Linked DNA regions of Homo sapiens. The protein of the gene in region 1 purifies or fractionates together with the protein of each later gene. This does not show direct contact. Each region holds a gene or a part of one and is shown in the gene's direction. Other genes may lie near its edges.

Region 1 (3,500 bases):
CGTCTCCAAACCACGAGCAAGACATTCATTCTTACTTTAGTTCAGCAAGCTTCAGCTTATGGAGCTCCACTGTCTTGGTCGCCATCTTGTTACCCCTCTGGCTGTGCTCTTTTAATAATTGTATGTGGGCCGGGCTAATCCATCAGAAGTATCACTAGGGGTCAGGCGTGGTGGCTTACGCCTGTAATCCCAGCACTTTGGGAGGCCGAGGTGGATGGATCACCTGAGGTCAGGAGTTTGAGACCAGCCTGGCCAACATGGTGAAACATCGTCTCTACTAAAAATTCAAAAATTAGCTGGGCATGGTGACGCCCGTCTGTAATCCCAGCTACTGGGGAGGCTGAGGCAGGAGAATCACTTGAACCTGTTAGGCAGAGGTTGTAGTGAGCCAAGATCGCACCACTGCACTCCAGCCTAGGTAACAGAGTGAGACTCTGTCTTAACAAAACAAAACAAAAAAAAAAGAAAGAAAGAAGTATCACTAGGTACAACCTAAACTTTCCATGGTCTGGGCATTTTTCTCCCTGTAGGAAAATTTATTTAGGAGACTTAAATATTAATCAGAAGCTTGAAAAAGAGAGCAGAGAATCAGAGCAAAGGGCTGGTTTTAATGAATGGTTTTGGTGAGTTTTGCTTCTATAACGTAGTCATTTACCACTGAGGTAGGAGACTTTCTGGCAGATCAGCCAGGCCACCTTCACACTGTCCAGTCAGAACGTCATTACCTCCACTGAGTTTCTGGTCTCATTCCCATGTCTTTGCTCAGTAATTCTGCCCTTCTGACCAGCCACCTTCTGTTAGCACAGCCATCCCTAACACAGGGCATTCTGTCTCTCTGTTGACTAATACAGTAGCCACTAGTCACATGTGGCAGTTCAAATTTAAGTAAAATCAAATCACATTTAAAACAAAATTCTCAGACACACTAGTCATATTTCAAGTGCTCAGTAGTCACATGGGGCTAGCAGCTGCCATATTGGACAGCAGAAGTGTACAGCGGCCTCATTCTGGTCGGACCTCCATGGTGGTCTTGCCAGGCCACCCGTTAGAAGTCTCACACATCCCCAGAGGCTGGCTCTGTCCCATCAGGTCCTGTCCCAGAAGGGACACGTCCCTCCATGTGTATACATCACATTTCCTCAATTCTGAAATTGGTCTTTCCTTTTTTTTTTTTTTTAAAAAAGAGGCAGCATCTTACTCTGTCACCCAGGCTGGAGTGCAGTGGCACAGTCATAGCTGACTGCAAGCTTGACCTCCTGGGCCCAAGTGATCCTCCCACCTCAGCCTCCTCAGTAGCCAGGACTACAGGTGTACACCACCATACCCAGCTTTTTTTTTTTTTTTTTTTTTTTTTTTTTTTTTTTTTAACGGAGTTTTGCTCTTGTTGCCCAGGCTGGAGTGCAGTGGTGTCATCTTGGTTCACTGCAACTTCTGCCTCCTGGGTTCAAGCAATTCTCCTGCCTCAGCCTCCTGAGTAGCTGGGATTACAGGTGCACACCACCACGCCCAGCTAATTTTTTGTATTTTTAGTAGAGACAGGGTTTCATTATGTTGGCCAGGCTGGTCTCGAACTCCTGACCTCAGGTGATGCACCTGCCTTGGCCTCCCAAACTACTGCGATTGCAGGTGTGAGCCACTGTGCCTGGTCCCCAAGCTTGCTTGGCTGGCTTACTTACTTACTTACTTATTTATTTATGTAGTGAAGACAAGATCTCAGGCTGATCTCGAACTTCTTGGCTCAAGTGATTCTCCTGTCTTGGCCTTCCAAAGTGCTAGGATCATAGATTTGAGCTCCTACACCCGGCCAAGTTCCTTTCTTTTTTTTTTTCTTTTTTTTTTTTTTGAGACAGAGTTTTGTTCTTGTCATCCAGGCTGGAGTGCAATGGCGTGATCTCCGGTCACTGCAACCTCCGCCTCCTGGGTTCAAGCGATTCTCCAGCCTCAGCCTCCCAAGTAGCTGGGATTACAGGCACCCACCCGCAAGCCGGGCTAATTTTTTTTGTACTTTTAGTAGAGATGGGGTTTCACCATGTCAGCCAGGCTGGTCTCGAACTCCTGACCTCGTGATCTACCCACCTCAGCCTCCCAGCACCTCCCCCCTTTTAATTCCTCCATCTTACAGTAATATCTGTGAGATCATGAGTAACTTTTTTTTTTTTTTTTTTGAAAAGGTGTCTTGCTCTGTTGCCCAGGCTGGTGTGCAGTGGCGCGATCTCTGCTCACTGCAAGCTCCGCCTCCCGGGTTCACGCTGTTGTCCTGCCTCAGCCTCCCGAGTAGCTGGGACTATAGGCGCCAGCCACCATGCGCGGCTAATTTTTTGTATTTTTAGAAGAGACAGGATTTCACCGTGACAGCCAGGATGGTCTCCGTGCCAGCCAGGATGGTCTCGATCTCCTGACCTTGTGATCCGCCCACCTCGGCCTTCCAAAGTGCTGGGATTACCAGCGTGATCCACTGCGCCCGGCCATGAGTAACTATTAAAATGTAAAATGTCTGTCAGTGTAGTACCTCAAATCATGTTGCCTTCTGTGAGGGGGACCTCTGCCCCTTTCCAGGACGTGATGCCTTCAGGTGGCTCCAGGAGTTAGGAAGTGAAGGTACCTCAGCTTCTTCAGGCCGTGTCCCCCAGGCTCAGGGTGGCCTCTCTGCTGACACCCTGTCCCTATCTTGCCGGCAGGGGGCATGTGTCCGTTTCGCCACATCAGTGGTGAGAAGACAGTTGTGTGCAAACACTGGCTGCGTGGCCTATGCAAGAAAGGGGACCAGTGTGAGTTCCTGCATGAGTATGACATGACCAAGATGCCCGAGTGCTACTTCTACTCCAAGTTCGGTAAGGCGCCTGGAGCCCTGGAGGCTCTGCTGAGAACCAGGGTGCAGAGGGGTCCGCTGGCTGCTCAGTGCCCACACTGTCTCTGCCTGCTTTTCCCATCTTTCTATTCTCAGAGGAGAACTCTGGCAGAACCTGCCAGCCTCAGCCAGCTTTTAGGGGACAGTGTGGCTATTTTCTGCTCATCTCTTTTTTTTTTTTTTTTTTTTTAAAGACATAGGGTCTCGCTATGTTTCACATACTGGTCTTGAACTCCTGGGCTCGAGTGATCTGCCTGCCTCAGCCTCCCAAAGTGCTGGGATTACAGGCGTGAGCCACCACGCCTGGCCCCGCGCATCACTTTGGAGTGCTTCAGTGTTTGGAGCTCTTTCAATCACTCGGATTTGAGGCTAACGAGGGTGACCCGGAAGCAGCGAGTTGTGCAGCTGGCTGCATTATGTCCGTGGTTGGTTTCTGTCCACGTCCACCTTCTCCCTGAAACCCACTTCTCCCTCCAGCGTGGGCATTGCCTCTCAGGCCCGAGCTGGTTCCTTCTCTCCAGGAGCCATGATCCTGGTGACATCTCAGCCATCCTAAATAGCCCTTCAAAATAACAGCCTCAGATGTGTCTTCTGGTAGCAACAAACTTGCCTTGAGCCCTGCTTAGAGAATGCGTGGCCTCAGCTGTCCTGA
Region 2 (3,500 bases), about 30 Mb from region 1:
GATGCCACACTTTATTTTAGAGGAGCCCAGATCCTCAGAGATGCTGCCACTAACTCTAAGCATCTGTCTTTTAAAAAGGTCAAGGAGCTCTGCTTGGAGAGAGCAGAGACTATCAGAAAAGCGAAAATTTAGAAATCCTGTGGAGATAGTAACAGGGATTCTGTCAGCCAGAGAACAGGTAGCCCCTTACCTTCTCCATGTATGATACTTGCCTTTCAAATAATGATCAGAAAAGAAATTGGCAGGCATCAGATGCCTTCTGATGTGTTACACTGAAAATAGCCCTTCTGTGGTATTCCTCCCAAAAATGTATAACCTGAATCTAATTGTGAGGAAACATTAGACCAATCCCAGTTAAGGGTAAAATCTACTAACTCTGAGTGAAGCATATATGAGAATTATTTACACTAGTATTATAATTCTTAAGTTTGAAATGATTCTAAAATTAAAAGTTAAAACTTTTCTTATCTATAAAATGTGTGTAATCATACCTACCTCATAGGATTGTGAGAGTTCAGTAAAATAATAATTAGCATAGGCTGGGTGTAATGGGTTCATGCCTGTAATCCCAGCACTTTGGGAGGCTGAGGCAGGAGGATTGCTTGCGCCCAGGAGTTCGAGACCAGCCTTGGCAACATAGGGAGACCCCATCTCTACAAATAATTTTTTTAAATTAGCTGGGTGTGGTGGTGCATGCCTGTGGTCCCAGCTACTTGGGAGGCTGAAGTATGAGTATCACCTAAGCCTGGGAGGTGGAGGCTGCAGTGAGTTGTGATTATGCCACTACGCTCCAGCCTGGGTGACCCAGCAAGACCATGTCTCAAAATAATTATTATTCTATATTATACATTATATAACAAATACATAATTATATAAGGTACAGAGCTGCTGCCACATAATATATGCTCATTAAATAATAGCTGTTATTAAAATTGTCTCTTGCCATCCTCAGCAGGGTGGGAAATACCACTGTTCTTAAAAACTATTGCAGAGTCCAAGTGTCTGTAGCCTAGGGGAACCATCATCCTTCTGGTACACTAAGAGTTTAGGAACCTGAACATATTTTAATACAAATTGATACTGTTCAGATACTGAACAGTTCAGATTATCCTGTTCAGATTATCCTGTAGACACGAATTGATCACTTACTATGCATTAGATACTGTGCTATGTGCTGAGAATGAATAAGATGAATATATAAATGAGATAAGGTCCTGCTTTTAGAAGCACACAGACAGATAACCACTGTGCAGCAAAGTAAGTGCTGTCATGGAGTTAAACGGCACATGCTTCTGTAGGAGCATAAAGGAGAAATTGCTTACTGAAGAGCAAGGGAGCAGGGTAGAAAGAGATGTCAGCAGAGCTGAGTCTTGACATTTGTATAGGTGTTTTCTTAGTTTGGAAGTATATTCCAGGTACTGGGAACATGTGTGTTGTCTCCAAGGAAGGAGATAGCATGGCAGATTTAAGAAGCTAGAAATATTTTAATGTAGTTGGCAGATGAAATACATTTGGGGGAGTGGTACTATCTAAGGTAGGAGTCATGGGAGTCATATGTCAATATAATCACATATCACTGTAAGTATTTGGGTCTTACTCTTATCCTGTCTTATCCTTAAGAACAGGCAGTCTCACTGAAGTATTTTAAGGAAAGGAAGCGACATGATCCAAATTGCATTTAGGAAAATCACTCTGCCAAATGATTTAGAAAGATGTAAACCTAGAGGCAATGAGATTGGGCCAGGGGTTACTATAGTAATCTAGGCAAGAAGTAATAAGACCTAAACTTAAGCAAGGCCAGTATGTATTAGAGAAGAGTAGAGAGATGAAAGAGACGTTTATGGAATTAAAGAAAAAGAGTCACCCAGATTTGGTGACAACTTCAATTCAGGAGAGGCAGCAAGGACATTCTTGTTTATATGGCTCATTCAGTTGGATGAACAGTGATGCTATTGATCAAGATAGAAAATATAGAAGAAGAAATAGATGAGATTATGGGTGCAGAGAAAATAATAAGTTTATTTTCAAACACAGTAAGTTTGAGATCCTTCTGGGACATTGATGAGGTGCTATCCAGTGGCTAATTTGATCCTTGGCTATGAAGCTTCAGAGAGATCTAAGCTAAAGTTACAAATGTAAAAATCAGCCATCTATCAGCAGTCATTTGCAGCCAAAGGAAGAGTATGGTTCTCTATACTGAAAGAATAGAGAAAAGAATAAAGGCATAACCCTGCAGAGCACCAATATCCAAAGGTTGGCTGAAGTTGAGGAGAGGCAATTAAGAGAAGTAAGAGGAAAACCAGGAGAGATGTATCATGGAGTCCAAGGGGTATAGAGTTTTAAGAAGGCAAATAATGTTTAATGTAGTAGAAGAAATCAAATAATATAAGAGTCTAAGAAGTTGGGCATGGTGGTGTATGCCAATAGTCCTGGCTACTCAGGAGGCTGAGGCAGGAGGATTGCTTGAGGCCAAGAGTTAGAGGCTGTAGTGCACTATGATTATGCCTGTGACTAGCTACTGCACTCCAGCCTGGGCAGCATAGTGAGATCCCATCTCTAAAAAAAAAAAAACACACACAGTTAAGAGTCTAAGAAATCTTGGGTTTGGCCTTCGGGGGATCACTGATGATCTTGGAGAGAGCAGTTTCAATGGGGTAGTTGGTTAAATGGCTAAGTGGCACTTTCTACAGTTTCTAGAAATTTGGTCAGGGAATCTCATGGTAGCCCCTGGCTCCCTATTATCAGGAAGAAATAAGTTCCGTGATGCAAACGAACCTTTTATTTCTGTCTTGTATGAACTAAGGAAATTGTTTGGATTTTTCACTTCTAAGAATAGTTCAGCTATCTCAAGAAATGACAGCAACTTGATATTAGCTTTTGAAGTCCTGTGTTAAAAGGCTCCCCAGCTGCCTGTTTAGGTTAATGGGTCATGCTTTATTTCAACAGTATGGATGGATTTCGACTGGTGAAATTAAATGAGGTCATCCGACAAGTGGACATTGTTATTACCTGTACAGGTATGATAATGACATTTTAAATGGGGTGGCACTTGGGAATGTTTTTATGGAGCAGGTGCAAGATGATTGGAAATATTCTGAAAAACCAAACTCTAAAAGCTAGAGAGAGATAGTAGCCCACAAAGCCAGCCAGTCTTTCACATTCTTCCTAATTCTTTAGAGCTCCGACCAAAGGTATACGATTAGGTTATTCCTATGTAAAAATGTTTCTCTTCACCCTTGAAGACAACTGTTATATCTCCATTCATCCTAGGAGATAGCTAGAGATGAGATTCACTTATAAAGTTTTATTTGGGAAGCCAGATATTTTTTTTTTCCAAAAATATATTTATTTTTAAAAACAGAAAATCAGATCAGTTTTATAGAGTCAAATTTTCAAGAGACAAACCAGAGTTTGGATTCCAGCTTAGAGTGCAAGTGAAGCATCAGTAATCTCATGCAGAAGATTTGTCTCTGCAGGAGGTACATTCTGCTTGACTGCAA
Region 3 (3,500 bases), on another chromosome or scaffold:
GTCCCCTTCCGAAGGCGCGACCCCATTTCGGGGGTTAGTGGGGCCGCTGAGTCCACTTGCGAAGGCGCCACCCCACGTGAGGGTGCTGTGGAGCATGGGAGACGTCCCTGCCTCTTGCATTTTAACGTGAAAAGGCAAGCTTGCGCCCATTAGACGAGGTTCAGTGAGTCATCAAAAGCGGCTCACCCCTAGGCCTGCAGCGGAACACTGCCGCGCTTTCAGAGCCCTTCTCTTCCTCGTAGCAATGCCCTCCCCACCTGAGGGCACCTTTGCCCCACGTCTTGCGTGAATCACATCCTCACTGTTCTTGAGTCTCACTGTACAGATGTGTCTAAACACCACATTGCTTGCTGTGCAGTGTAAAGTTGATTTATAGGGGCTTGTACTTTGCAGTCTCTGCTGTTGCTGTTCCCCGTCACTGCTTTTAGACTCCTCCGTGTTGACAGGCATCGCTGGGCCTTCCCTTCCTCGTGAGGAACGCCATTCAGTCCTCGCCTGCTGGACGTGTGCGTCACCACGGACGGTGTGGCTGTGAACGTGTTGTCCCCGTCTCCTGGGCACATACCCGGAGAGCCTCTCTAGGAGAGCCTTGCTTGGCCGTAGCAGACGGAGGGGTTTCATTTGCCAAGGCTTTTGTGGCAGGATTACAATGATTCCATCCAGGCGACTAAATGATACTGCAGTTTGGATTTAGTTTGCGTTTCCCTAATTCTCGGTGAGGTTGAGTGCTTTCCTATCTTGTTTCATTACACACAGACGCTCACACATGCTCCATTTAAATGAAGCAGGTTCACGTAGTGGGGCACACTGTGGGGTCTGAATCCATTTCTACCTTTTCCCAGCAGCATTTTTTTTTTTTTTTTTTTGAGATGGAGTTTCGCTCTTGTCCCCCAGGCTGTAGTGCAATGGTGTGATCCAAGCTCACCGCAACCTACGCCTCCCAGGTTCAAGCGATTTTCCTGCCTCAGCCTCCCGAGTAGCTGGGATTACAGGCATGCGCCACCACGCCTGGCTAATTTTGTATTTTTAGTAGAGATGGGGTTTCTCATGTTGGTCAGGCTGGTCTCAAACTCTCGACCTCAGTTGATCTGCCTGCCTCGGCCTCCCAAAGTGCTGGGATTACAGGTGTGAGCCACCGTGCCCAGCTCCCAGCAGCATTTATTTAGAAGGCTATCTTCACCAGCTATAGCAGGAGCTCAGTTCCATTATACCTGCAGGATCACTTCTGGTTTCCATTCCAGTCCACTGTTGGTCCACCTATGTGCCAGCACCACACTGTCTACATTATTGAGGTTCTATGGTGTGTTTGAATATCTGATGGGACTGATTCCTCTTCATTGCTCTTGTAGTCTGTCAGATTTTTTAAAAACAATTTTTTTGTAGAGTTGGGGTCTCCCTTTGTTTCCCAGGCTGGTCTCGAGCTCCTAAACTCACGCAATCCTTCCTTCCCAGCCTCCTGTATAGCTGGCATTACAGGTGCACAACAGTGCGCCCGGCTCTGCCAGATTTTTAAATGTATTTTTGAGACTTTGTTGTTAGCTGCATACAAACTTTTAACTGTTTGTAAACAGATTTCCTAGTGAAGCGGTTCCCATGATTCCGCGGTGGCACAGGCCTTTTGTTGTAAAGTATTCCTCTTTATGTCTCACGGTTCTTTTTGTTTCAGAGTCTGATTTATCCCGTACGAATGCGGCAGTGCCACCTTTCTCTTGGTTAGGATTTTCTTGATATGTCTTTTTCTATCCTTTTACCTTCTACATTTCTGCATCCTTAAACTTGAGTGTGTATGTTGTAAATAGTCTATAGTTAGCTTTAAAAATATATCCAGACTGCAGACTTTTTCTTATATCTGAATAAAGGCAATTAAAACAATTTATAAGCAAGAGAATTCACCCACTTTAAGAGCACAGTTGAGTGAGTCACTTTGCACGTCATTGCCGCCACAATCAGGACCAAGACTGTTCGCCCGTGGCATGGGGCTCCTCGTGCCCCTTGTGCTCAGTCCGTCTCCCACCTGTGTCCGGCAGCCGGTGCCTGCTGCGGGGCGAGCAGCACTGCCTACTCGGAATCCCATCTGCACAGAGCCATGGTGCGTGGAGCTGTGCGTCTGCTTCCTTTTCCCTGGCATCTTGCTGGTTTTGAGTGTGCTGGGTTGTGGGGTGGATCAGTGGCCCGTTCCTCCATCTTGAGAGTGCTGGGTCATGGTGTGGAGAGAGTGCTGGGTCGTGGCATGGATCAGTGGCCTGTTCCTCCCGTCTTGAGTGTACTGGGTCATGGCTTGGATCCGTGGCCCATTCCTCTCACCCTGAGCATGCTGAGTTGTGGTGTGGATCGGTGGCCCGTTCCTTCCGTCTTCAGCACACTGGGTCGTAGCGTGGATCAGCGGCCCCTTCCTTCCCTCCTGAGTGCTCTGGGTCATGTGGATCCCTCTGGTCCTTTCTTCCTGCTGCTGAGTGCTGTGGAGCCCATCCCACGGGTCTCCTCCGCTGGCTTCTCCAGTGGTCAGTGGAAGGTAACAGCGCTGATGAAGGTGTATATTTAACTACCTTTTTTTCTTATTGGGTTTTTAAAAGTTGCAAAGTTATCTTTTAAAGGTTTTTGTTTCTTTGTTTTTGTGAGATGAAGGTAAAAATCAGGCTTAAAGTGCTCCCTGTGTTTCCTAAGATGTGCCTGAGTGGGGAGCCTCGGCCAGGCGCACCCCACAGGGATGCAGGGCCACAGGTGGGAGATGTGCTTTTCTCCTGTGACTCTGCAGTAGGCTCTGGAGGGCAGGTCTCTGCCCTGGGTGGCACATGGACTCTCCTGATGCTGAGAGGCTCGGGCGCTGCACCCCGCCCTGCTGATGCTGAGATGCTTGGGTGCTCCACCCCGCCCTGCTGATGCTGAGATGCTCCGTTGCTGCACCCTGCCCTGCTGATGCTGAGATGCTCGGGCGCTCCACCCTGCCCTGCTGATGCTCAGAGCCTCGGGCGCTCCACCCCGCCCTGCTGACGCTCAGAGCCTGGGGCGTTCCACCCTGCCCTGCTGATGCTCAGAGCCTCGGGCGCTGCACCCCGCCCTGCTGATGCTCAGAGCCTCGGGCGCTGCACCCCGCCCTGCTGATGCTCAGAGCCTCGGGTGTTCCACCCTGCCCTGCTGATGCTCAGAGCCTCGGGCGCTCCACCCCGCCCTGCTGATGCTGAGATGCTCGGGCGCTCCACCCCGCCCTGCTGATGCTCAGAGCCTCAGGCGCTGCACCCACCCTGCTGAGTCTGAGAGGCTTGGGCAAGGTTTCAGCCTCAGACACGCTGGTGGGAAGTAGCACGCTTCCTCGCTCAGGCCCCAGCGCCCTCCTTGGCCTCAGCTTGTGGAGCTGTTAGAGGAGCAAGTGCTCTGTGCAGCTGGAGTTCCGAGGCATGGTCCCCAGAACGGCCAGTGTGTTTCGGGTTCAGCATCAGCACAGGAGCCCTTCCGTGCTGCCACGTGACCCCTGGAGCTCGTTGATCCACTACCTGTGTGTT
Region 4 (3,486 bases), on another chromosome or scaffold:
AAGCGCTAGCTGAGGCTGCAGACGTGGGGGCACAAATGATAAAGCTTGTGGGGCTGAGGGAGTTGTCCGAGGCCGAGCGGCAGCTTCGCAGCCTAGTGGTGGCCCTGATGCAGGAGGTCTTCACAGAGTTCTTCCCTGGTAAGTTACCTCCCCTACTATGTCTGAGCCCTCCCTGGCCTTTGCTCTCCTGTGTCTGTATCCCCAGTCCTTCCTCCGCTAGAGGTGTTTGGTTGCTCTTCCATCTTTGTGCTCTGTTTTGTTCTTCCCCCTGCTCCTCCCTAACTTCTCTTGACCTTTCTTCTCTGCTCGGCACCCAGGCTGTGTGGTCCACCCTTTTGGCTCTTCCATAAATAGCTTCGATGTCCATGGCTGTGATCTTGACCTCTTCTTGGATCTGGGTGACTTGGAAGAGCCCCAGGTGAGTGAGTGTCCCAGGGAGGCAGCTGGGAAAAGTCCATGAGAATGGCCATGTGACTGTGGGCAAGTCCTTTAGCTCTCCATGTCTTAGTTCCTCATCTACAATGCAGATAATAGGACCTACCTGAAAGAGTTTATTGTAATTGGAGAGATGTGAATATGGATGAGTATTAGATAGGATGAAAATGAACTGACAGGGCCAGGCGCAGTGGCTCGCGCCTGTAATCCCAGCACTTTGGGAGGCTGAGGTGGGTGGATCACCTGAGGTCAGGAGTTCAAGACCAGCCTGGCCAACATATAGTGAAACCCCCATCTCTACTAAAAAAAAAATACAAAAATTAGCTGGGTGTGTGGTGTACACCTGTAGTCCCAGCTACTTGGGAGGCCGAGGCAGGAGAATCACTTGAACCCGGGAGGCAGAGGTTGCAGTGAGCCGAGATTGTGCCACTACACTCCAGCCTGGGTGACAGAGGGAGACTCCTCAAAAAAAAAAAAAAAAAAAAAAGAATTGACATGGATACCTGGCAGTCATAACAAAAAAAAAATTTCAAAATGGTGTGTGCAATATGATCTTATTTTGGAAAAAATATATTTAAAATTATACAATAAGGTCCTTTTAGTTTTGCTTATGTGTATTTTTTTTTTTTGAGAGACCGTCTAACTCTGTCACCCAAAATGGAGTACAGTGCTGTGATCTCGGCTCACTGCAACCTCCACCTCCTGGGTTCAAGTGATTCTCGTGCCTCAGCCTCCCAAGTAGCTCGGAATACAGGCACACGCCACCATGCCTGGCTAATTTTTTGTATTTTTAGTAGAGATGGGATTTCTTCATGTAGGCCAGACTGGTCTTGGACTCCTGGCCTCAAGTGATCCACCCACCTTGGCCTCCCAAAGTGCTGGGATTACAGGAATGAGCTACCATGCCCGGCCACTTAACCTGTATTTTCTAACATCTAATGTACAGATTCTGTTTAGGAAAGGATTATTATTATTACTTAGAAATAGGGTCTCACTATGTTTCCCAGGCTGGTCTCGAACTCCTGGGCTCAAGGAATCCTCCTGCCTCATTCTCCCAAATTGTTGGGATTACAGGTTTAAGCCCCCATGCCCAGCCTATTATTATTTTCAAAAAATAGACTTGGCCGGGCGCGGTGGTTCACGCCTGTGTAATGCCAGCACTTTGGGAGGCAAGGCAGGTGGATCACCTGAGGTCAGGAGTTTGAGACCAGCCTGGCCAACATGGTGAAATGCTGTCTCTACTAAAAATACAAAAATCAGCCGGGTATGGTGGCACGTACCTGTAATCCCAGCTACTCAGGAGGCTGAGGCAGGAGAGACAGCTTGAACCCAGGAGGCGGAGGTTGCAGTGAGCCGAGATCGCGCCACTGCACTCCAGCCTGGATGACAGATTGAGACTCCATCTCAAAAAAAAAAAAAAAAAAATGGACTTTATTTTTTAGAGCAGTGTTAGATTCACAGCAAAAGTGAGCAGAAAGTAGTTTCTATATGCCTGCTGCCCCCGCAACAGGAGTTTTAAAATGTTTTATCATTATTTTTATCTTTCTCTACACACACACACTCTCTATTTATATTTTCTGAATCATCTGAGAGAAGGTTGCATGTATCACATTCCTTTACCCCTCAATACTTCAATGTGTGTTATGCAAGAACAAAGGTATTCTAGTGTAAAGGTATTCTAGTGTATAACCACAGTACCATTATCAAGTTGAGGAAATGTTACATTGACACAGATGTAAACCTTTACAGACTTTACAGTCCATACTCTAATTTGGTCAGCTGTCCTGTCAATGGACTGTTACAGTTTCTCTTTCGTCTGTAATAGTTCCTCTGTTTTTGTCTTTCACGACAATGACATTTTTTGCAGAGGTAGACCTTTTATTTTATAGAATTAAAAGGTTATCTTTAAAAAAAAAAAGGGTTCCTGTGAAGATTAAATGAGTTAATATGTATAAAGACCTTAGAATAGAGCTGAATAAGCTGGAAGTAATATTATCTTGAGAGATCCCTGCTTAGGGAACAGCAGAAACATTTCACTCAGTTCATTTCTGTCCACAGCCAGTCCCAAAGGCTCCAGAATCTCCATCGCTGGACTCGGCCCTGGCTTCCCCACTGGACCCTCAAGCCCTGGCCTGCACCCCAGCTTCCCCTCCAGATTCACAACCTCCTGCTTCTCCCCAGGATTCTGAAGCCCTGGACTTTGAAACCCCTTCCTCCTCCCTGGCGCCCCAAACTCCGGACTCTGCCTTGGCCTCCGAGACCCTTGCTTCTCCCCAGTCTCTGCCTCCAGCTTCACCACTGCTAGAGGACAGGGAAGAGGGGGACCTGGGGAAGGCCTCGGAACTAGCAGAGACCCCAAAGGAGGAGAAAGCAGAGGGGGCAGCAATGCTGGAGCTGGTGGGATCCATTCTCCGGGGCTGTGTCCCTGGGGTGTATCGAGTCCAAACTGTGCCCTCTGCCCGGCGCCCTGTGGTCAAGTTCTGTCATCGGCCTTCAGGTCTCCACGGTGATGTCTCCCTCAGTAACCGGTACCTTTCTTTTTTTTGAGACGACATTTCACTCGTTGCCCAGGCTGGAGTACAGTGGTGCCATCTTGGCTCTCTGCAACCTCTGCCTCCCAGGTTGAAGTGATTCTCCTGCCTCAGCCTCCCAAGTAGCTGGGATTACAGGCATGCGCCACCACGCCTGGCTAATTTTGTATTTTTAGTAGAGACGGGGTTTCTCCATGTTGGTCAGGCTGGTCTTGAACTCCCGACCTCAGGTGATCACCTGCCTCGGCCTCCCAAAGTGCGGGGACTACAGGCGTGAGGCACCATACCTTTCTTTGGGGCAGGCCAGCTGAGAATTCTGGGATGGGCCAGGAGAGTCTGGCTTGGGAAACTCCTGCACCTGCCAAGTCTCAAGTTTGTCCTTGTTTGGGACCATCCCTCTTTCTGTCCCTTATCTCCTCCTGCCTGGCTTCCATTTCAGTGTTTGTAAAGTGTGTTCCTTAGAATACTACTTTTTTTTTTTTTTTTTTTTTTTTGTGAGACGGAGATTTACTCTTGTTGC
Region 5 (3,500 bases), on another chromosome or scaffold:
CCCAGAATTAATGATGGGGTCTGGGATTAGTTTTCAGTATTTTTCAAAACCTAATGGAAATAATATAATATACCTACACAGGTAAACCTTCTTCAAAAAAGAGCCTTTTCTCACTCCAAAGTCTTAGGCACTTTAATATTCTTTTAATAAGAAAAAACAAATATTTATAGAGAGAAATGGAAGAAAACAGAATTTTCCACATTGCAAGGATATCAGGGTTCCTTCTGCCTTTTACTTTCAGCACAATTGTTTCAACAGCAGCAAGGAGCCATCCTTTAAGACTTCAAATGTGCCAGTAACTCACGTTATTTTTCATATGCGGGGAACATAATTTCTGTTATAGCTTATAGGGGCTCAGTGACCAAGCTGCACGTTTGGAACCGATTTCAGATGAAAGAGACAGAATAACAGCAGGATATCCTGAAGTGAAATTCAAACCCTGGTGAGTTAAAACCACCATCTAACACCTTTCCCTCCCGAAGCAATTGCACAGAATCCTCTCAATCAAAAAAAATTCGAAGAACCTGTATAAAATGGCATTTCTTTAAATCATATTGCTCTTTGCAGCCCATAAAGCATTTCCAGATACATTCTTATTTTGATCCTTCCAAGGATGGCTGGTATACACAGGGCCTTATTCCATTTTACATAGAAAGAAACTGAGTGTTAGAGAAGTTAAGTGGTTTCTCTGAATTTCACACCTTTTTTGTCAAATATTTATTGAGTGCCTCTTAAAGGCCGGACTCCATGACCTTCAAGGATGGAGCCAAATCTCCCTGTTCCTCGTGTGATCTTCCTGTGCCCCCCTTTGGCCTGAACCTACTGTGTGGTTCACCCAGGGACTTCACCCTACATTACTACTGTGTGGTTCCCTGGAGACTGGGGGCTTAATCCGTCTCTGATATCTCCTTGATTGAATAGAATTTATAATTGGCCAACAATTTAACAAACGAATGCATTGTTTAAAGAATTATTTAAAGTTTTAAAAAATGTTTGATTCAGCCATCTTAGATCTATATTTTATGCTGATATGGACTTAAACATGTTGTTTTTATTATAATGCTTTGAAATTTGCATAAGAGCTACACATATTCTTTTATATGTATGAATTATTATGTAATAAAACATAAAAAGAACATGAGGCTTTGGTCCTTTTGTAGGCTTGGAATATTTTTAATATTACGCTAGGACTAAACCAGAGTTAGTCATCTCAGCCTTTATACCTACATATAAAGAGTTTGTTTCTGTGCCGTGTGATAGGGCAGCATCAGCCCATAGTCTTTTTTTTTTTTTTTTCCTTAAGCAAATCCATTCTTCAGGATCTCTCTCTGCAGAAGTTAAATCTCTTGAGTTGTGGAAATGGAATTTATGGTGCAGCTATAGGAGGCAGCCCCTGGTTGGTATTCCTGTAGAACAGGCAAGTTGCACACCACCTGTGAGAAGGTTCTTGTAAAAATATGTTAAATTTCTTTGAGAAGATCCAGGGCTCACTGCTATAGTTTGGCAGGAACCTGGTCTTTGGGAGAACTCAGAATTGGTGAGAATTCAGGACAGCAAAATTGTCTCTTTTAGGATTTGATATAGTGAGAGAATTGCAAAGGAAGTTTCTACTGTATTTGGGTGTTTTAGGCTTACTGCTTTGAACTTAGGTTAATATTCCCTCCTCTTTTCCCTGTCAGTATAAAAATATGAAATAATTACTGTTTTATGCCACTTTATTTCTGTCCTCGAAGGAAGCAATCAATAATTAAAAGCATGCTTTGTCTTCCTGGAGTCATGAATAATTAAATTGACTCCCCCCATCCACACACATCTTTTTTTGGACCTCAGATGTAGTTGAGGTAATCATACTTCTGAGTTCAAGGCATGCTTTTATCTGGTATATGCAAGGCAAATTTGATTTTTCAGAATGTTCCCTCTCATTTCCTGCTCTTCTCACAGACAGCTCCTCTATGGGTTTGGTTACGTATCTTTGAATACATGTGTATGTGTGTCCTGATGATCACTAGGGAACTAGACACACCTAGAACAAGGCACCCTGATTTTACTTGGCAGATTCAGACCTTGAGCTCTCTTCTGATCCTCCTGCTCACTCAGCGTTTTTCTGTGGCTGTGTCAGGGCAGGGGCCCCTGCACTGGCCCCTTCCTCCTGATGAGTGGCCTGTTCTGACACTTGAGGGAGGCAGGGCATTTTGAGGTCTCCTTTGCCTCTCAGGAACTTGCATTGTTAGCCCACCCACATCCCCAACCTTCACTTCTTTGGATTTCTAGGAAATCTGCAGTAGTTTAGGGGTGCAGTCCTTTGGCAGGGAATTAACTGAAGTACCTGCCTTTTCAGGGGTTGAACCCATGACCTTGGCCTCATTAGAGCTCTAACCAGTCACAAAGCACACACCTCACTTTGTGTAACTTCTGCTGACTTGTTCCTGCCACCCTCCGCGGCTTCCTATTCAATTGCAAAGGCGTTCACACCAACACAATAGAACAGAAGGAAATCAGATCTCTTCAAGACTTCTCTGAAGGACAGAAATATGCAATTTAGCAGGAAAATAATACAAAAAAGTCTTGAAGGTTCAGGAAACAACTTATCTTTCTAGTCCGTACATTCGCTGAGAATCCAGCTGTGTCTCTCAGATTCTTTTTCAATCAAAAATTTAAAAATAGCGTGGAACTCCTTGTGTTAATTTATTAACATAAAATCTAGCGACTCTTGTACATGAAGTGGAAGGTTTCGGATGACTAAGTGGAAATATTGTATGTATGTTATTAAAATGGATTGGGTTAGCTTTTATAGAAAAAGTGGATCTGAGAATTCATAAGTGCTTATCTTTGGCAAGTTTATAGTCCCTAGAGATAAAAATGAATGCGTGCTATAATAACAAAGACACTGTTGTGTCTTAGTGAGTGCACTGTGATGCTCAGGGTGTGTTGGTGCCCAGGGGACGCGGAGTCACCATGGAGGAGAGGAGAAACAAGGACAACTCCCTAGAGAAGTGAAATTCACACAGGGCTTGAAGACCTGAATGTATCTTGGGGGAGGGACGTGGTAAGATAATCTGGCTGTCCAAAAAGATACAGGTTTTTATTAGAGCCAAATAAAAAGCTCAAGGATTTTATGTCTTGGCACTTGGAAGGAGTTATGTTGAAATCTGTGTTCTGTTTAATCTGAGTACCAAGAAAGACTCTTCAGGGATGTAGGTACTGGCTCATATTTTTGATGAGATGGGGATTTTTCTTACTCTGGTGATGTTTGGATAGGAAACATTTGCTCATTTGCCACCTGAAAAATCTCTTCTCTGTCAATTCCGTGAATCCATGGTACAGTGACAGTTGCTGTTCACAGTGATAGCCTCATATGCTCTTAAAACCTCACCAATAAGACACATTTAATTATGAGCCAATAGTATACTCCCTAAGGGTAGGAATTCTACTTTTTAACTCAATCAAAAACATTTGTATTTGTGGACACTTAGTGGGTTCTATAGTTCTGGAAAACAACT
Region 6 (3,500 bases), on another chromosome or scaffold:
TGAATGATTTGGAGCCAAGACTTCTGGACTCCTAAATATTAACCAATATGGGGGGCTGCTTCTACTTAGTTCCAAAGAGCAACACAGGCAGTAGGTATGGTGAGGAGTAAGAAAGGAAAAGTCCCCATAGACTGGAGTCATCAGGGACAACTTCCTGGTGGAAGGGGGCAACAGCCTTTGAGGGAGGGGGCGGGGAAATTTCACTAGCCAGAGACCCTCTTTGTGGCTGCCTCTCTGGTCCCAAGTGGAATTCTGCCCCTGGATCAAGGGTAATCTCTTGTTCTGACTCTCATTTGGAAGGTTTTATCGCCAACCTCTCTGTGCAGCGGCAGTTCTTCCCCACTGATGAGGACGAGATAGGAGCTGCCAAAGCCCTGATGAGACTTCAGGACACATACAGGCTGGACCCAGGCACAATTTCCAGAGGGGAACTTCCAGGTAACTCACCACTCCAGGCGTTGCCTGTCCCGCATGTGTCTCTTTAGTGGCGGGACAGGTTGGAGCCACCACCAACTTGTGGCCTTTAACCTCGGGTGCACCTCTGGTGCACCTCTTGGCTCACCAGTTTGTGCTGGACTCCCTCTCCCATGACAGGTTTCTCCCTCAGCCCCTGCCCTGCCACCTCCCTCCATGTATTAGCCAAGGCCCTCTCCTCTTGCATCTCAGAGAAAGCCAAAGTTGCTGCTCAGGAACCCCCTCCACGTCTGTCCCCAGAGCACCACACAGATCTGCATTCAGACCTGCTTCTTGTCTCCCACCCTCCAATGTCTTTTCATCTAAGGCTGATCTGGGCTTACTATCCCCCTGTCTTGAGTCCTCTTAGTTACAGTCTCTGCTCCTATACATTCTGTCTCCACCTCTCTGGGTTCTACCCTTGAGCTCCCATATAGGCTCTATTCTTGCTCATCTTAACACTTGCCTCCCTCGGTATCTGAGAGTCTTTCGAGTCTTTGCTGCTGATTCATCTCTTCTCCCCTCCTGGTTAGGCTACTGGATAGAGTAATCTACACTCTGTCCATTTTCCTGGTTCCCATATACTCCTGAACTCACAGTATCTGGCCTTTTTCCCCACTGTCACTGATGCTGTTCTTACAAGGTCATCAGTGGCCGCTTGGCTGGTAAACCCAGCGAACAAGGTTCACACATAATGTTCTTTAACTTCCCAGCAGCATTTGACAGATAGATTGCCTCATTCTTTGTGATGTTCTCTCCTCCTTTGAATTCTGGCATACTGATATCTGCTTCTCTTTTAGCCTCTCTGGTCATTTTCTCTCAAGTGGCCCCTCTCCCACTGACTTCCCAGTGTTAGTGTTTATAAGAAGATGTTTTGAGGGCTGCTGGAGACAAGTAACCCCAGCGATTCACTGTGTGAGGCTCATGCAGACCCAGCTTATTCCAGCTCCAGAACCTCAGCTGCCCCCTTTAGACTCCATTAGAGAGAGGGCAGTTCAGGGCACCTGCAAGATCTGTTCACTCTGTAGCCTTGAGATTGGTTGCTTGGAGGAGGGAACCATACCCTGGCGTTGACCTCTCACGTTCACTCAGCAAACCCATGAGTGTCCTGAATAGGGTTATGGGGCAGAAAGGAATTACTCCCTAGGACTCCATCCTTACCTCATCTTCTCCCTGAGCACCTTCCCCAGGTGAGCACAGCCATTTCCATCACCTGAGGTGGATGACATCCAGATCTGTGTTTCTTGCCAAGGCTTGTCTCCCGAGCTTCTAACCAGTGTAGACGGATGCCTTTGGGACATCTGTACTTGAATGTCCCATGGACTTCTCGAACTTCATGTGTCCTGAACTGAAATCCTCATCTCCTTGTAAACACTTTACCTTCCCCCTCATCCTTCTATCTCAGCAAAAAGGACCTCCATCCTCTGGCTGCCTAAGCCAGAAGCCTAAGGCCTATGGATTCTACCTCCTTCTCTCATGTCTTCCGTGCTTATCCCCTGACTCCAGCCTCACAGCTACTTTTTTCTCAATTTGATTATCAAAATACCATTCTGACTTGTCTCCTACCTCCAGCTTACTGCTTAAGACCATCCTCCATGTGGTCTTAAGCACACATTTGTTCACATGAGTTCCTGATTACTGTGCTTAATTTCCAAAGCTAAACCCAAACTCCTCCTGTGTGTGGTCTTTGGGGTCCTGCATGACTCCATTTTCCTGGCTTCCTTGCCCATTGTACTCAGCTTTCCCTATCACTCAGCTCTTTTGTCTCAACCCCTCTATAGGAATACCTTTACCCATGTCAGCTAGGCTACTCCATGTCTGATTGCCTATCAGCACTCAGCTCAGCTGTCACTCTCCCAAATGCTCTCCAGGGAGTAGACATTCGAGTTGGCTCTGGGGAGGATGCTGAGTGCCAGGGAGCCATTCTTAGCATTCTTGGCATCTGGGAGACATGTTGATAATAGCTACTGGTCATTAGCATCCTGGGGAGCATAGGAGACATCTTCATATGTCATCTTATTGAATTCTTGCCACAAGCTCTTTAAAATTGATGATATTATCTTTATTTAGAGATAAGGGGACTGAGACTTAGATATGGTAACTTGTCTATAGTCACACAGCTGGTTGGCGCCCTAGTGAGGCCAACACAAACCTAGTTTAGTTCAGCTCCAGAGCCCCAGCTCAGTCAGCTATGTTACTCTGCCCCAGCAATGTAGGTTCCTGGGCCTGCAGAGCCAGAGGAGACCTGTGGAGAAGGAAAAGGGGCTCCAGGAGCCCCCCAGTCCCTGGCCTACCTAGGGACTTCATCTTGTGTTTACTGTCCCCAACTTCCTATTCCTCGTTATTGGTTCCTGAGCCACCGGGGTTAGCAGACCCTGGTCTCTGAAGCATTTAGCCTACTGTGTAGTGGTTTCATTCCAGGCAGAAAGAGCCTTCTCTGAGTTCTTTTGTGTCAGCCATGCCCAGGTTGCTGTTAATGGGGCTGTGGGGAGTCTTCCTTGCTTTCCAGGGAGAGTCACAGCCCCCACTTCCCCTCCATGGTATCTGCTTTCTCATTATTCTCTGAGGAACCACACACATAGTCTTTCCCATCTTGAGCTCACCCTAAATCCTGCATCTCCCTATAGCTGCTTCTTCATATTGGCTTGAAACTATCTTCATGGTCACTTTCCAGCACTCCCTCTACAGCAGATGACCTTTGGTCATAAGACCCACTGAACTGATACTCAGCAAGGTCCCTGCCACTTAACAGCCAAAGCTGGCACTGCAACCTTGGCTCTTGGCCTCCCTTGGTGTCTCTCACACCACTCCCGCTCCCTCTGTTTCTCCTATCTTTAGTTCATTCTCAGGGTTATTCATTGTCTGTTCTTTCTGGGTAGGTGCTCCCTGGAGCTCTGGCCTTAGTCATCTTCTCCATTCTTTCCTCAGAGTTCCTGCAAGCTATTTTCCTCACCCATGGCTTGGTTGCCACCTAAATTTATGTTTTTTATATTCAGCTAATTTTTCCATCCTCTAGACTCATATGGCAAACTGCCCACCAGACATCT
Region 7 (4,148 bases), on another chromosome or scaffold:
CATCACCACCATCACCACCACCACCATCGCCACCACCATCACCATCACCAACATCATCACCACCATCACCATCATCACCACCGTCACCACCATCACCACCACCATCATCATCATAATTATCATCATGACATGTCAACATAATCATGTCTTCACCATCATCATCATCATCACCATCACCATCATCAACACCACCACCACCATCATCATCACCATCACCACCATCACCATCATCATGACATCATATCACCAACATAATCACCACCATCATCGTCATCACCACCACCTCCGCTACCACCAGCATTCCTCTTTTCCCTAGCCCTTTCTTGCCAATCTGGAGCAAAATATGGAAATGGGTTAAGTGGAGAACTAATCTCCCTTTCTTCCACTCATCCCAATTCCCACAAGAGAGGCCACGTGTGTGGTTTCCAGATGGCAAAGTCTCACCCTGCCCTACAGCAAGAGGGGACCCCTGGGGCCAGATTCCTGAGCACCTAGTTTTGGCTGCAATAGTGACAGTCTGGGTGATGATGTCAGGGTGGCCAGGTCCCCTCCCAGGGTTGGCACTTCCCCATCTATCGGTGTGGCATCGGAGGATTCCAGTGAGATGTAACATGGGGAGTGGCTGGAAAAATACTCTGTAACTGTATGGCGAATGCCAAGGGGCAGGGGTCCTTGTATACACCGAAGTAATCCCGAGTCAGTTTACAGGATGGGAAGGGCCCCTATATAGATGACCAGGGTCCTTATGCAGGTAGAAGGGGTCCTTATGCAGCATGAAGGCTTGCTACACAGGCGTGTGGATTTTTCCATACATTCTGGAGTAGCCTCTACACATAGGAGTGTTTGTGCTTAGAAGCTGTGTCCTTATGCAGGCTAGGAATAAAAGTGGGACGGAGATTTTACACAAATACGGGCATCTTTTACAGGTGGGAGCACTTTCGTACACAGAGGACTTCTTATCCATGGAATTGGCCGTTCTTTGTAAAACGCTCTGTACTTACTAGCAACCTTTACACAGACATGAAGTTTCTCCATAAGGATAAAGGGATCATTATGTTTTAGGTGAAATAACAGTATGAGTGGCCTCGTATGGACAAGGAGGGCTGATTTCAATCGCGATGCAAGCCAGCTGTCCGGATGCCGCCGACGCCAGCAGCGCGGTACCTGCGCGGGCAGCAGGTGGGAGCCGCGACCGGGGTGGGGCGCGGAGCGCTGGGGGCCTCCCGACTCCCGCAGTCCCCGCCGCGACCACCAGGGGCAGCACCGTCCCCGCCCGGCCCGCGCCTCCCTCCCCCCAATCTCCGCCCCCCACCCCCTGCCTCCCCCCCGCTCCCGCTCCCCTGAGCCCAGCCAGACCCCGCGCCGCCCGCGCCCCGCTCGACTCCGGAGGCTCCCGCAGCCCCGGCGTCCGCCCCGCTGCCCCCTCCCCCGGGGGCCATGGGGGCGCCCCCGGGCTACCGGCCCTCAGCTTGGGTGCATCTCCTCCACCAGCTGCCCCGCGCCGACTTCCAGCTCCGCCCGGTGCCCAGCGTTTTCGCGCCCCAAGAGCAGGAATACCAGCAGGTGGGACCGGGCGCCAGGGCCTGGGGGCCAGGGCTGGGGGCCGGAGCTCCTGGGTCCCGAGGGAGAAGGGGGCTGGGTCACAGATTTCCTGAGCTCCGCCGGAGGCTGGGGGCCGGCCCGGACTTTGGGGTTTCGGAGGGAGGAGGAGCCTGGGGGCGCCCATGCCTGGAGGTTCTCCTGGGACGCGCGCTGGGGGTCCAGACCTCGAGCTCTCTAAATAAGGGAAGGCTGGGGACCTGCACCCCTGAGTTCATGGAGAGGAGGGGAGGGGGGCCCGGATTCCCGGGTGTCTGATACCTGCCTGGGAAGCCGGCCTCCAGGGTCATCGGGAGGGTAGGTCTACTCTTCCTGCCCTAAAAGATGACCCTGCCCCACAGGATCAGAGCAGGTGAATATGTCCCAGATAAGGTGGGACCCAGGAGACAGCGGACCTGATAACGGTGGCGGGGAAAACGCTGGCTGCTGCGGTGCTGGGATGGGATTGAGAGTCTGAAATGGGGAAGGGGGCTTCAGGGGCTGAGGACCAGGGCTGGAAAATGAAGGGGCTCTGGGAGAGGAAGCTTCTTGCCCGTCCCAAGAAAGAAGGGGTGGTCAGGGCGCTGCAGGGGTGAGGGCCGAGATGAGGCTGGGTTTGGGGAGCCTCGGGATGACAGACCCGGGTCCCGAGGGTGGGGCCGGTGTGGGAACCTCACAGAAGCCGGTGTCCCTGGGGAAGGGGCCCGGCTCGGGGCAGCTCCAATGGGCGAAAGAGCTGTCCCCTGACCCAGTTTAATTCAAGTCCTTGACTTCGAGATTAATGAGGAGAAAGGCTTGGCTGAGCTGGGGACGGGTGGGGGTGCTGGGAGTCCCGATGTGGCCCCAGGACGGGTCCTGGCCCTGCTGATGGGGCCTGAGCCCCTGGGCTCCGTCTTGGGTTGCTCCTGGGAGAAGGGGGCTGGGATTGGAGAGCTCAGGGGGCGTGGAGGGGGTCCCAGAAAAGCGCGGAGGGGATGAGTGCTGTGTTCTGAGCTATTTGGGTCACGGCTGGCACAGCCCTGAGCAGCTCTTCCCCGCCTGCTCCTCGCCGCCCCCTCTCCCCACACACGGGGACCGCCGTCCCCTCGCCCACAGCCTCGCGGTTACACAACGGCCACCTCCAACAACGCCGCTCCACCGGCTCCGGCCTCGGCCCAGACTCACGCCCGCTCTGGCCCGGAGACCTCCCGAAGCCGCACGCGGGGATCCGCGGCCCCAGTCACCGCCAGAGGCACGGGTTTGGGGGAGCCTCACTCCGCCCCCACGGTCGGGGGTCAGGGTCAGGGTGGCAGGGATGCGCGGGCAGAGCCCCACAGCCGAGGAGGGCAAGGGGGACCCCTGCAGGGACGCGACCACCGTGGGTACAGCTGCAGACACAGCCAGGGCCTCAGGGACACTGGCCCGGGGGAGGCACACAGCCACACGCACACACTCACTGGCATATGCACAGCACACACACACGTCCACTTACTCCCATTACACACTCACATGCACACACATATGCACAGGCACACCCAGACACGCCCACTTATTCCAACACACTCACATGCACACACATATGCACAGGCACACTCAGACACACCCACTTACTCCCATTACACACTCACATGCACACTCACATGCACACACTCAGACACGCCCACTTACTTTCATTACACACATGCACACACACATATGCACAGGTACACACACACGCCCACCTACTCTCATTACACACTCACATATGCACACACACATACCCATTTACTACTCCCGCTATGCACTCACACCCACATACAACACACGCATATAGACACATGCATACACTCACATGGATATACCCACTTACACATACACAATCACACATATGCACACGCACATTGCGCACAGTGACTCACAACACACACATACACATGTATAAGCATTTACTCCCATATACAAGCACACACTGCACTTATATATATATGCTTACACACTCATGCATGCACCGTCACATACACGTTTATACTCCCATACACACACACACGTACATTCCATTCACATCTACACACACATGCACACACATATTGACTATAGCATTCATGTGCACACACACACTCACATGCAGTCACGCATCCACACACACACTCATCCACACTGTTACACACACACAACCGGACCCACTCACAGGCCCAAGGAACTGTGCCCAGAACACACAAATGCCCACAGATGTTCTCATTTGCAGACAGCAGTGCACCCAGGAGACACACTCAGGTGCCCCCTCATCTCATGGAGACAGCCCAAAGATAAAAACATCCAGTCTCAACCAGAAACACAAACACTGCACACACTTGGGACACACACACACACACACACTGTGCCACTGTGTGTGTGTATGTGTGTGGACAAAGGCAGAAACACCGTGGTTTAGGGGAAACAGCCTTGGCAAGTCCAGAGGTGTGACTCTGATCCCAATGTTGTCCCTCCATGCTCCGGGGCTCAGTGCAAACCCCCTGGGCCACTGTGGGCCTCTGGGACCGCACAGGTCAGCTGTGAAATCCCCGCCACGTGGAGAGCCCTGTTATTCTGCAAGGCTCTGCCCACCGCAGAAC

The links.
Region 2: the proteins of CPSF4 (region 1) and AHCYL2 purify together in Homo sapiens (affinity purification with mass spectrometry; one large-scale study listed by BioGRID and IntAct). This does not show direct contact.
Region 3: the proteins of CPSF4 (region 1) and WRAP73 purify together in Homo sapiens (co-immunoprecipitation; one study listed by IntAct). This does not show direct contact.
Region 4: the proteins of CPSF4 (region 1) and TUT1 purify together in Homo sapiens (pull-down; one study listed by IntAct). This does not show direct contact.
Region 5: the proteins of CPSF4 (region 1) and SMYD2 purify together in Homo sapiens (affinity purification with mass spectrometry; 2 studies listed by BioGRID and IntAct, with this or other methods). This does not show direct contact.
Region 6: the proteins of CPSF4 (region 1) and P4HA2 purify together in Homo sapiens (co-immunoprecipitation; 3 studies listed by BioGRID and IntAct, with this or other methods). This does not show direct contact.
Region 7: the proteins of CPSF4 (region 1) and TTYH1 purify together in Homo sapiens (affinity purification with mass spectrometry; one large-scale study listed by BioGRID and IntAct). This does not show direct contact.

What each region holds. Positions count from the first base shown.
Region 1 is NC_000007.14:99,445,443-99,448,942, forward strand, and holds part of CPSF4 (cleavage and polyadenylation specificity factor subunit 4), read left to right. Parts: intron 1-2,678; coding exon 2,679-2,831; intron 2,832-3,500. UniProt on the Homo sapiens protein: Component of the cleavage and polyadenylation specificity factor (CPSF) complex that play a key role in pre-mRNA 3'-end formation, recognizing the AAUAAA signal sequence and interacting with poly(A) polymerase and other factors to bring about cleavage and poly(A) addition.
Region 2 is NC_000007.14:129,406,530-129,410,029, forward strand, and holds part of AHCYL2 (adenosylhomocysteinase 3), read left to right. Parts: intron 1-2,946; coding exon 2,947-3,017; intron 3,018-3,328; exon of another isoform or gene 3,329-3,500. UniProt on the Homo sapiens protein: May regulate the electrogenic sodium/bicarbonate cotransporter SLC4A4 activity and Mg(2+)-sensitivity. On the contrary of its homolog AHCYL1, does not regulate ITPR1 sensitivity to inositol 1,4,5-trisphosphate.
Region 3 is NC_000001.11:3,640,104-3,643,603, reverse strand, and holds part of WRAP73 (WD repeat-containing protein WRAP73), read left to right. Parts: intron 1-3,500.
Region 4 is NC_000011.10:62,578,038-62,581,523, reverse strand, and holds part of TUT1 (speckle targeted PIP5K1A-regulated poly(A) polymerase), read left to right. Parts: coding exon 1-138; intron 139-317; coding exon 318-418; intron 419-2,493; coding exon 2,494-2,963; intron 2,964-3,486. UniProt on the Homo sapiens protein: Poly(A) polymerase that creates the 3'-poly(A) tail of specific pre-mRNAs. Localizes to nuclear speckles together with PIP5K1A and mediates polyadenylation of a select set of mRNAs, such as HMOX1.
Region 5 is NC_000001.11:214,287,659-214,291,158, forward strand, and holds part of SMYD2 (N-lysine methyltransferase SMYD2), read left to right. Parts: intron 1-3,500. UniProt on the Homo sapiens protein: Protein-lysine N-methyltransferase that methylates both histones and non-histone proteins, including p53/TP53 and RB1. Specifically trimethylates histone H3 'Lys-4' (H3K4me3) in vivo. The activity requires interaction with HSP90alpha.
Region 6 is NC_000005.10:132,210,854-132,214,353, reverse strand, and holds part of P4HA2 (prolyl 4-hydroxylase subunit alpha-2 isoform 2 precursor), read left to right. Parts: intron 1-300; coding exon 301-438; intron 439-3,500. UniProt on the Homo sapiens protein: Catalyzes the post-translational formation of 4-hydroxyproline in -Xaa-Pro-Gly- sequences in collagens and other proteins.
Region 7 is NC_000019.10:54,414,116-54,418,263, forward strand, and holds the start of TTYH1 (protein tweety homolog 1), read left to right. Parts: upstream 1-1,348; 5' UTR 1,349-1,437; coding exon 1,438-1,563; intron 1,564-2,986; exon of another isoform or gene 2,987-3,020; coding exon of another isoform or gene 3,021-4,148. Other genes in the region: LIM domain-containing protein A-like, read left to right, coding at 3,021-4,148. UniProt on the Homo sapiens protein: Calcium-independent, swelling-dependent volume-regulated anion channel (VRAC-swell) which plays a pivotal role in the process of regulatory volume decrease (RVD) in the brain through the efflux of anions like chloride and organic osmolytes like glutamate.